3 separate regions of the Homo sapiens genome follow, and all the other regions are linked to region 3. The links come from fine-mapping of genetic effects on gene expression. A gene starts in region 3. Each other region holds a variant in brackets. All regions are shown on one strand. Distances are from middle to middle.

Region 1 (2,765 bases), 45 kb after region 3:
CAGTAGACTCTTGTCTGGCAGAGAGAGGTCAATTTATATTCTCATTTATGTAGAAGTTTATGAAGACGTTTTTAAAACTTCACCATTTCTAAATATTAATAAAAGGAACATTAGGATTTAACATCTATAATACATATATGTATAATATTAATGTGATTTGGGTTCAGTGTTATGGGTTAATTATATGAAATTGAGCTAACCTGTAGTAAAGAACCAGGAAGAACCTTTCAGCAAGTATTGATGAGTTCTATAGATTAATGAAGATCATCAGTGTGCCAAGCACTGTGCTAGGTGCCAGGGAAGAGGTAAAGGTCACAAACGAAATATATGATCCTTGCCCAAAACCTAGCTGCGTAGGAACTAATACCACTCACATAAAAATTTCAGTGCCTTACATATTGGGATGAGGAGCTGACATTTAAGTGCATTCTGTATTAGGCAGACATTGTGGTAGCAGGCACTTCACAGGTGAGAGAAAGCACATTCAGTGAGTGAGATTCAGAAGAGATCGGTCAGGACTGAAATCAACATTCAGAGGTGGAGTTTGATAAAAAGCCATAGTGGCAGTACATTTCACTTTGAGGCTGCTTTTTTGTTGTTGTTTTTGTTGTTGTTGTTGTTAAATTACTGCAATTTTATTTTGAAACTGCATGGCAGTTAGATCTGCTTGCCTGGGTAATCATTCCTTTGACGATCCACTAAATCTGTCAAAAGGCAGCGGGGAAAGGTGCTTTTCATCTGTCCTTAATTAGTGAAACCACTTGGGTAAAAGCTTTAGGATTTGGTAATTATGAGACTACTAGCACCTAGTGTACCTTTACAACTATAGTTGACACTATTTAAGACTTAAAAGCTAAATAAGTATGCAGGGAATTTCCTAACTTATGGTCTGTCCACTTGGGTCTCAAAATAGTTAAGTATTATTAACACAATGCCCATTTTGCTTGTGACTTAATGTACTACATCAAGTCTTCAAAAGAAAACCAAGGTATTAACCAACCTGATGAAGCCAGAAGGTCTGCCTCTTTTAGGAAATCAATTCAATTAGTAAGTAGCTGAAGTTAGAATTGAACAAACCTTGTATGTTTGTAACAGCTTGAATGACCAAATACAGTAGTTGCTCTTTTACTAAAAGCCACCATATGGTCCAGCTGTGCATGGGTGGTGTTTCAGGGAATGCAAGCTTCTTATCTGTGGGTGTCCTCATAAATGAAATTTGTAAGTAGGCCTCCAAAGTTAATAAGAGAATGATCCAGTGCCTGACATTTTTATTGTAAATACAATTTAATATCAAAAATCTTACTGTTAACTATGTCCATAGTGATCCTGTAAGACAATTTTTTATTTCATGTAGAAGTGATCAAAAGCAAAATGCTGGAGCTAGGATTTTTCTTACTTTCTGAGTATGCAACAGTTAAACCTTTAAAACATCTTTGGGAGGCT[G/A]AGGCGGGCAGATCACGAGGTCAGGAGGTCGAGACCATCCTGGCTAACACGGTGAAACCCCATCTCTACTAAAAAAAAAAAAATAGAAAAAAATTAGCCAGGCATGGTGGCGGGCGCCCGTAGTCCCAACTACACGGGAGGGTGAGGCAGGAGAATGGCGTGAAGTCGGGAGGCGGAGCTTGGAGTGAGCCGAGATCATGCCACTGCACTCCAGCCTGGGCGACAGTGCAAAACTCCGTCTCAAAAAAAAAAATCTTTGGCATCTGTTTCTGCTGACCTATGACATTTTTTTTTTTGTGATCACCTCAAAGGTGTTTTTTTTGTGCAGAAAAGCCTAATCAGAAATTTATTTTTTAAGTTCATAATCAACTTATTAGAATGCAAAAATGTATTGTGCTTAAGGTTAAGTTCAGCTTACAAATCTTTACTTTCTAAGTTTAGCAAATCGTAATCACTTTTAAGGGAACTGTGAACTGGTTCTGTTTACAAAGTTGGTTAATTAAGCCTTACTCTTTTATAGTCTTCCCATCTGTTAGGTCACACAATTCTTAAGTGTTAAAACGATGTCCTGTTAAATTCTAGGTCTCCCAGCTGTGTTTGACTATTTGGTCACAATTTCCAAATTGTTATTCTGACTGCTAAGTGATTTACTTTCAAAGTATTGCTCCAATAATGTTAAAGGTCTGGCTTCTACCACTTCATCTTAAAGGAATTTTTAATGAGTTTTTTTTTTTTTTAGCAATTGGGGTAAAACCCTCAAGGAACATCAGACTCACATAAAATAGTAATCTTAGTTCTTATTTCAACATCCATATGAAATCCTTAGTTACCATTATTTTTCCATTTTATTCTTTTAATTTTAAAATATTTGACAAAAAGATATTGAAGTATACAGTGTGATGGTTTTTTATACCAGTACATTGTATACTGATTACCACAATCAAGACACTGAAGTGGGAAATTACCTCTCCTAATTTTTGTTGACTTTATATTTAGTGCACTTTAGTCAATTTAGTTATTAAATATCTTAAGAATAACTTTCAGTAAAATGTTTAAAAAATTTCCTCTGCACAGAGCATTATGCTACATTTATGTAAATCGAGAAACCTACCTAAATACAGTTTTAAGTTTTAGAAGTTTCTATTGAAATGTTTGCTTTATTATACAATTCTATTTAAGTTTTCCATTCTAACTTATTAAAAGAATCAGCTTCTTCAGTCTCTGAGAAGTAGTGATAGTTCAATGTTGACATCAAAACATAATGTTGCAAAATGTAGATTAAGTACATCACATTGGTTCAAGATGGTAGTGCCACACATGTT
Region 2 (2,765 bases), 37 kb before region 3:
ATTCTGATGTCACATCTCCAAAGTTATCAGAAACCTGCATTCAAGAGCACCTGTTAGAGCTTTATAGCTGATTATAAAATCACCTTCTACAGAGGACCAAAACAAGACAACAATTGATTATGGATGACAAAAAGTTTTAGGGTAGCCATAGTTAAACACACAATTGACAAGGATATCTGTTACCTCTGTGGCACACAATAATTTAACACAACAATTATAATTATTACTCATAACATACACTAAGATGTATCAGAATTATAGGAGTCTCCCATAACTTTGGAACACATACAAATAACATACTTATACAAATATAGCCCAAAGAAAGCCAAACACCATTTCATATTTGACAATGCTTTCTGTATAATATTTATACCAAATAAACCAAATTTCACCTTTACGTTAGTGTGCTATTAATGTTAAACCCAATTCTTAACAAATCCTTATAGACAGATTTACCCAATTTTAATGTTTGACCATAAGGTAAGATTTTGTATAGACCTTTTATAACCCTTTACAATTTTTGTTAAAGAGCAGGTTAGTGCTTTAAGAGAAACCCACTGTGCTTTTATTTTAATGTTCAATTTACAGAAAAACTGGATGATACCCCTTTAACTTTGGCCAATATGTTTACACACAAAATTTCCTTTATAATCAACCTTCCACAACTTGTTTAAATCTTCCTCTTTATTTTATCCAACTTAAAACAGTCCTTTAACCTTTTAATCTAGGCAAAAATCCACATTCTCATGACTCCTTATAATCTTTTTACTAGAAGTATATTTTGCTTTCCTTACACACCTTGCATGTAAACTGTTTCTTCAATAGTTTTAAATATATGTTACACTGTTAACTTTTAGCAACCTTTACTTTTGGTGAAAACCTTGGTAAGTTTGGGATTTTAATTATGTACTAGGTGTGGAGCCTTGGACCTAGGCAGAAATGCAGATAAGGTCCGACTTATTCCAGTTTCAAACTCCATGTGTCCCAGGCCTTACCTAGCTGTACACCAGGCAAGTTGTACAGCTAAGAGTCTTAGTGGCATTTTTATAAAACATTCAGGAGGCCTAATCACCTTCAAACTGTACATTTCTTTCCTTTCATAAATTCCCTTTCATAAATTCTTTCATGACTACACAGACAAGCTATGACATGCCTTGACTTGACTTTCTGACTTGTCCTAAACATCCCTCTTTTTTTTTTTTTTTTTTTTTGAGATGGAGTCTCGCTCTGTCACCCAGGCTGGAGTGCAGTGGCATGATCTCGGCTCACTGTAACCTCTGCCTCCCAGGTTCAAGCGATTCTTCTGCCTCAGCTTCCTGAGTA[G/C]TTGGGACCACAGGTGCGTGCCACCACGCCCAGCTAATTTTGGTATTTTTAGTAGAGATGGGGTTTCACCATATTGGCCAGGCTGGTCTCAAACTCCTGACCTCGTGATCTGCCCTCCTCAGCCTTCCAAAGTGCTGGGATTACAGGCGTGAGCCACTGCGCCCGGCCACATCCCTCTTTTTAAACAACCAGTTATTTTACTTTAGGACAAGAATTTACCACACAAGATCCTTCATTATATAAAATATCTTTTCTTTAATACCTTTTTGCATAGCTAGGGGCATGGCTAATTTCATGTGTCCTGAGGGCTTATCTAGAATTTAACACTCCAAAATAAATTGAACAATTTTTTAAGTCAAAAAAAGTTTATGACCTAAAGCATTTAGCAAACTTAATATTTGACCTGCATAATTTAGACCAAATGTTTACATTTTTGAAGATATTTTTATTTTACCAATAGACTTTAAAACTCTCTTTATTTTTACAACTTACTTTATATCTCTCTTATTTCCTGGTTCCTTTTACCTTGTTTTATATATAAAAAACCTTTAAATAAGCTTTGAATTAGACAAAAATTATTTACCCTTTAAAAAGGACACAATTTTTAGAATGAATGTTTTCCTACAATATATTTTAATTGGAAAATACCTAAATAATGAAATATCTGTTGTTTAATTTAATATAACTTTGGATTCTGCAAATATTTGTCCCATTACATTTATCTAATTATTTATTTTAATCATTTACCTATGTTATTTATGAAAACTGTGATAGTCATCATTAAAAGTTATGAAATCACCAATGCAAAATTATAACTGAGAGAGTGAAAATGATCTGACCTAACTGACTCCATCTTACTTCTTACCTTAAAGCTATTCTTATTCATTAACTAAGGTCATAGTTTAGTTTTGAAACAGAGATGATAACAGTCCTTTCCCAGGATGAACTTTCTTTATGTCTGTGGAATAGACTGCCTAAGGCCACAAGATTAGGGTATTTTACTAAATAATTCAAGATGTAGCTATCTTCATTAAACCAATATTAATGTTTTATTAAAAACATTATATTTATTAAAAACAAGCTATAAATAAAATAATGTTTTATTTATTTAAAAAACATTTTATTTATTAAAAACCAGCAAAGATCATTCTGTTTTGGGCTGAGTTATAGTTTTGTAGCCTCTACGCCAAATTTTGACACCTTATAGTATTTGACAGAGCTAAGTACAAAGTTGCTTGATCAATAAATGCAAACAAAAATGTATGCTGGCAACTCTTAAGACATTTCTAATATTACTTCACCAATAATTTATTTTTTTTTGAGATGGAGTCTCACTCTGTCACCCAGGCTGGAGTGCAAGTGGCAAGATCTTGGCTCACTGCAACCTCCGCCTCCTGGGTTCAAGCAATTCTCCTACTCAGCCTCCCAAGTAGCTGGGATTA
Region 3 (2,765 bases):
GGCTGGTGTCCAACTCCGGACCTCAGGTGATCCGCCCGCCTCGGCCTCCCACAGTGCTGGCATTACAGGCGTGAGCCCTGGCCAGCCTAAGTACATTTTTGAAGGTGCTTTAATACTTTGGTTAGCAAAGTTTATGCAAACCAAAAAATTCTATATTGTGCCTTGGGAACTCTAATTTAGCACACACCAGCACTATACTAGCGCCGTAGTTTTTCTACACCATGGACACAAAAAACATTAAACAGTAAAATAAAAGGCAGATTTTCAGGAGGTTAAAAAGGTTGGAATTAAATTACCCGGCCAGCGCGACAGTTGTCAAAGCTGTACTTCGGACTCCCTGGTTCCATTCCTCCCTCCTCCTCCCGTCCCAACGCCAGAGCGGAGGTGGGGAGGGGGCAAGATGGGCGAGGCAGAGATGCTCTCCCAGCCGCCGGTTCTTCCAGCGCCGCGCACCTGCCGCCCCTTCCTCCATGCGGTCGCTGCAGCCTTCCCGCCGGACGCCTCGCCCCCCCGGGCAGGGGCGCACCTGGACCACCTGCCTCCCCGCCTCTGCCCCGAGCCTGCGGGGGCCAGGGGAGCCCGGCGCGCTGTTGTTTTTTTTTTTTTTTTTTTTTTAAAGTCAGCCTCCTAGAGGATGTTGGATTTGGCGGGTGTGCTCTTTGAAATACTATATCGGGAACCTCACACATAATTTTTTTTTTTTAATTGCAAACCTTCCCAGTTCACTCCGCAGCTGGAGAGCAGGCCGGAGGCGGCGTTCCCCACCCGTCTCCCTCTTTGTCGTCCCCTCCCCGCGCCCGGAGCGGGACTCGCGGGAGCCGCCCACTCCCGGCGCCCACTTGGTTCCTCCCAGCTGCCGTGTGAATGGGCCGTCCTCCGGATTCCGCGGAGGGGGCGGCGGGAAGGGGCCGAGCCCCGGGCCCAGCGGCCGCCCCCGCCCCCGCCCGGCGGCGGCCCACGCCGGGATCTGCGTCACTCGGCCGCGCGTGGGCGGGAGCCGGAGCGGCGAATGTAGCAAGAGCGGAATCTCCCAATGTGACAGCGCGGGGTGGGGGAGTGGAGGCGGCGGAGGCGGGCGGGGGAGGGGGAGGAGGGTGTAGCGCGCGCGGGGAAGGCAGGGGAGGGGAGGGCAAGGCGCGGCGGGGGAGGCGCTGCCGCCGCCGCCGCCGCCCGCGCGCCGCAGCCTGGAGGAGCCGCCGCCGCCGCCGCGGCCAAGCGAGCGCCGTCGGGGCGGGTGGGCGGGAAGAAGCGGCGGGCCCGAGGTGGGGGGGAGCAGAGAGAGCGCGCCCACCACCTTCCCTTCCCCCCTCGATGGGAGCGGGGGCGTCCCGGCTCCTGCAGCCGCCAGAGGAGGGAGAGCCGGGGGCCGTCGCTTCGGAGTTGGGGCTGAGCAGTCCTCGGGGAGAGCGCGCCAAGACCGCTGCAGCCGCTGGCTGAGTACGTACCGGAGCGGACGGTCGCCACTCCCGGTCCGCCAAGTGCGGGACACTTTCGCGGCTGAGCGGCCACGGGCGAACTTGGGGCGGCTGAGTCGCGGGGCCACGCGGGCACTTTGGGGGCGGTGTCCGGGGGAAGCGGGCTCCGCGCGGCCGCCGCCGGAAGGAGAGGGCGGCCCCGGGCTCGTGTGGGCGATTCCCGGAGACATTCTGTGTGCCAGGGCGGCGGGGAGCGCGGCCCTGACTCGTGCATTTTCCCTCCGAGAAAGGTTGGGGTGCCGAGTCCGTTTTGCTAACGGGGCTGGGGGCGTCACACGGCGCTCTGGGGGTGTGCGATGTGGGTTGTGCGCGCCGGCCCCAGAGTTTTGCAGCCACCTTCGTCAGGGCAGTCTTTTTGTTTGTTTACTTTATAAAAGTGCTGCACTTACCGTCTCGATTTTCTTCTTGGGTATCTTCCCTTTCCGAATGTAGTTTTCTTTTTAAAAGCGGAAGGAGAGTTTTACATGGAAGTGGCTTACAGAAACTTGGCGCTGAGGTGCAGGGAAGCCAGAAACTCTTTGTGTCTCTAAGGCCGATGAGGAATTTGGAAACACATGTGGGACATACAAGCGTTGGATATAGAGGTGTGTGTGTGTGACCTTATCATGGAGAAACACTGAAAATACTATCAAATCTTTGTGGTCTGCAAACTCAGAGCTTCCAAAGCTTGAGATAGGAAATGACACTTCTGTTAAGCCTGAATGTTGCAGGATCTCGGGGAAAGGGATAGTTGAGATGGAATATACATTTGTCGATTCTGCAGACCAAGCTTTGCAGCGAGTGATCGGGAGGAATCGTAGACTTGCATGTACTTACACCTCGCTCCCTGAGATTCGGGAGGCACGGAAAATTTTGGGATGGCTGTTAATTTAAAATTTCATCTGAAAGAGTCGATTTGGAGTAACTTGTCACTACCAGTTGGTTTGCCAGTGACGTGTCTGCCAACTCAAAGAGTGCAAAGATCAGAAGCTGAAAGAGGAATTCTCAGATCTTGTTTAAAAATATTTTGGCAGTTTTAATAGATAATATGAGATTGCATAGGAACAGAGGAGCCGAATTTAAAATAGATTAGTCACGTAGGAAATGCTTAGCTGTTGTAAAAGTGTTCACGCAATGACTTACCTTCCTAGGTTTTCACTTTTTTGAAAATTTTTCCCTGAACAACATACTGAATTATGATATTTCATAATTTGTGTGTGGGTTATAAGAAGTATGAGGAGAGAGGATGCATAGGATTTGCTTTTTCTGTTTTGGGTGGAGATTGAGCTTTTCCTGAAGACCTGAAAGAGC

Direction of the effects. Alleles are on the strand shown, and positions count from the first base shown. SD is a standard deviation of normalised expression in the study named. Not every link is listed here.
With allele G in place of C in region 2, the expression in vagina of the gene that starts at base 1,160 in region 3 is lower (small effect, 0.36 SD a copy in GTEx).

What was found. PIP is the estimated chance that this variant, and not a neighbour inherited with it, causes the effect. A credible set is the group of variants that fine-mapping cannot tell apart.
Region 1: its variant is the best candidate, but not a certain one, in a credible set for the expression of NAB1 in whole blood (INTERVAL, PIP 0.60).
Region 2: its variant is the best candidate, but not a certain one, in a credible set for the expression of NAB1 in vagina (GTEx, PIP 0.89).

What each region holds. Positions count from the first base shown.
Region 1 is chr2:190,692,952-190,695,716 of GRCh38, forward strand. No RefSeq gene overlaps it. Among named protein-coding and RNA genes, the nearest start is that of NAB1, 45 kb to the left of the region's middle. The variant G/A (reference allele first, on the strand shown) is at 1,444.
Region 2 is chr2:190,610,963-190,613,727 of GRCh38, forward strand. The region is part of intron 4 of NEMP2-DT (NEMP2 divergent transcript); the gene reads left to right. It also overlaps a transcript of NEMP2 not described here. Among named protein-coding and RNA genes, the nearest start is that of NAB1, 37 kb to the right of the region's middle. The variant G/C (reference allele first, on the strand shown) is at 1,324.
Region 3 is chr2:190,647,924-190,650,688 of GRCh38, forward strand. NAB1 (NGFI-A binding protein 1) reads left to right here and starts at 1,160. Exons shown (of 10, transcript NM_005966.4): 1 at 1,160-1,437; 2 at 1,923-2,059. It also overlaps a transcript of NEMP2 not described here. RefSeq lists silencers at 421-470, 481-530, 611-660, 691-1,060, 1,071-1,670.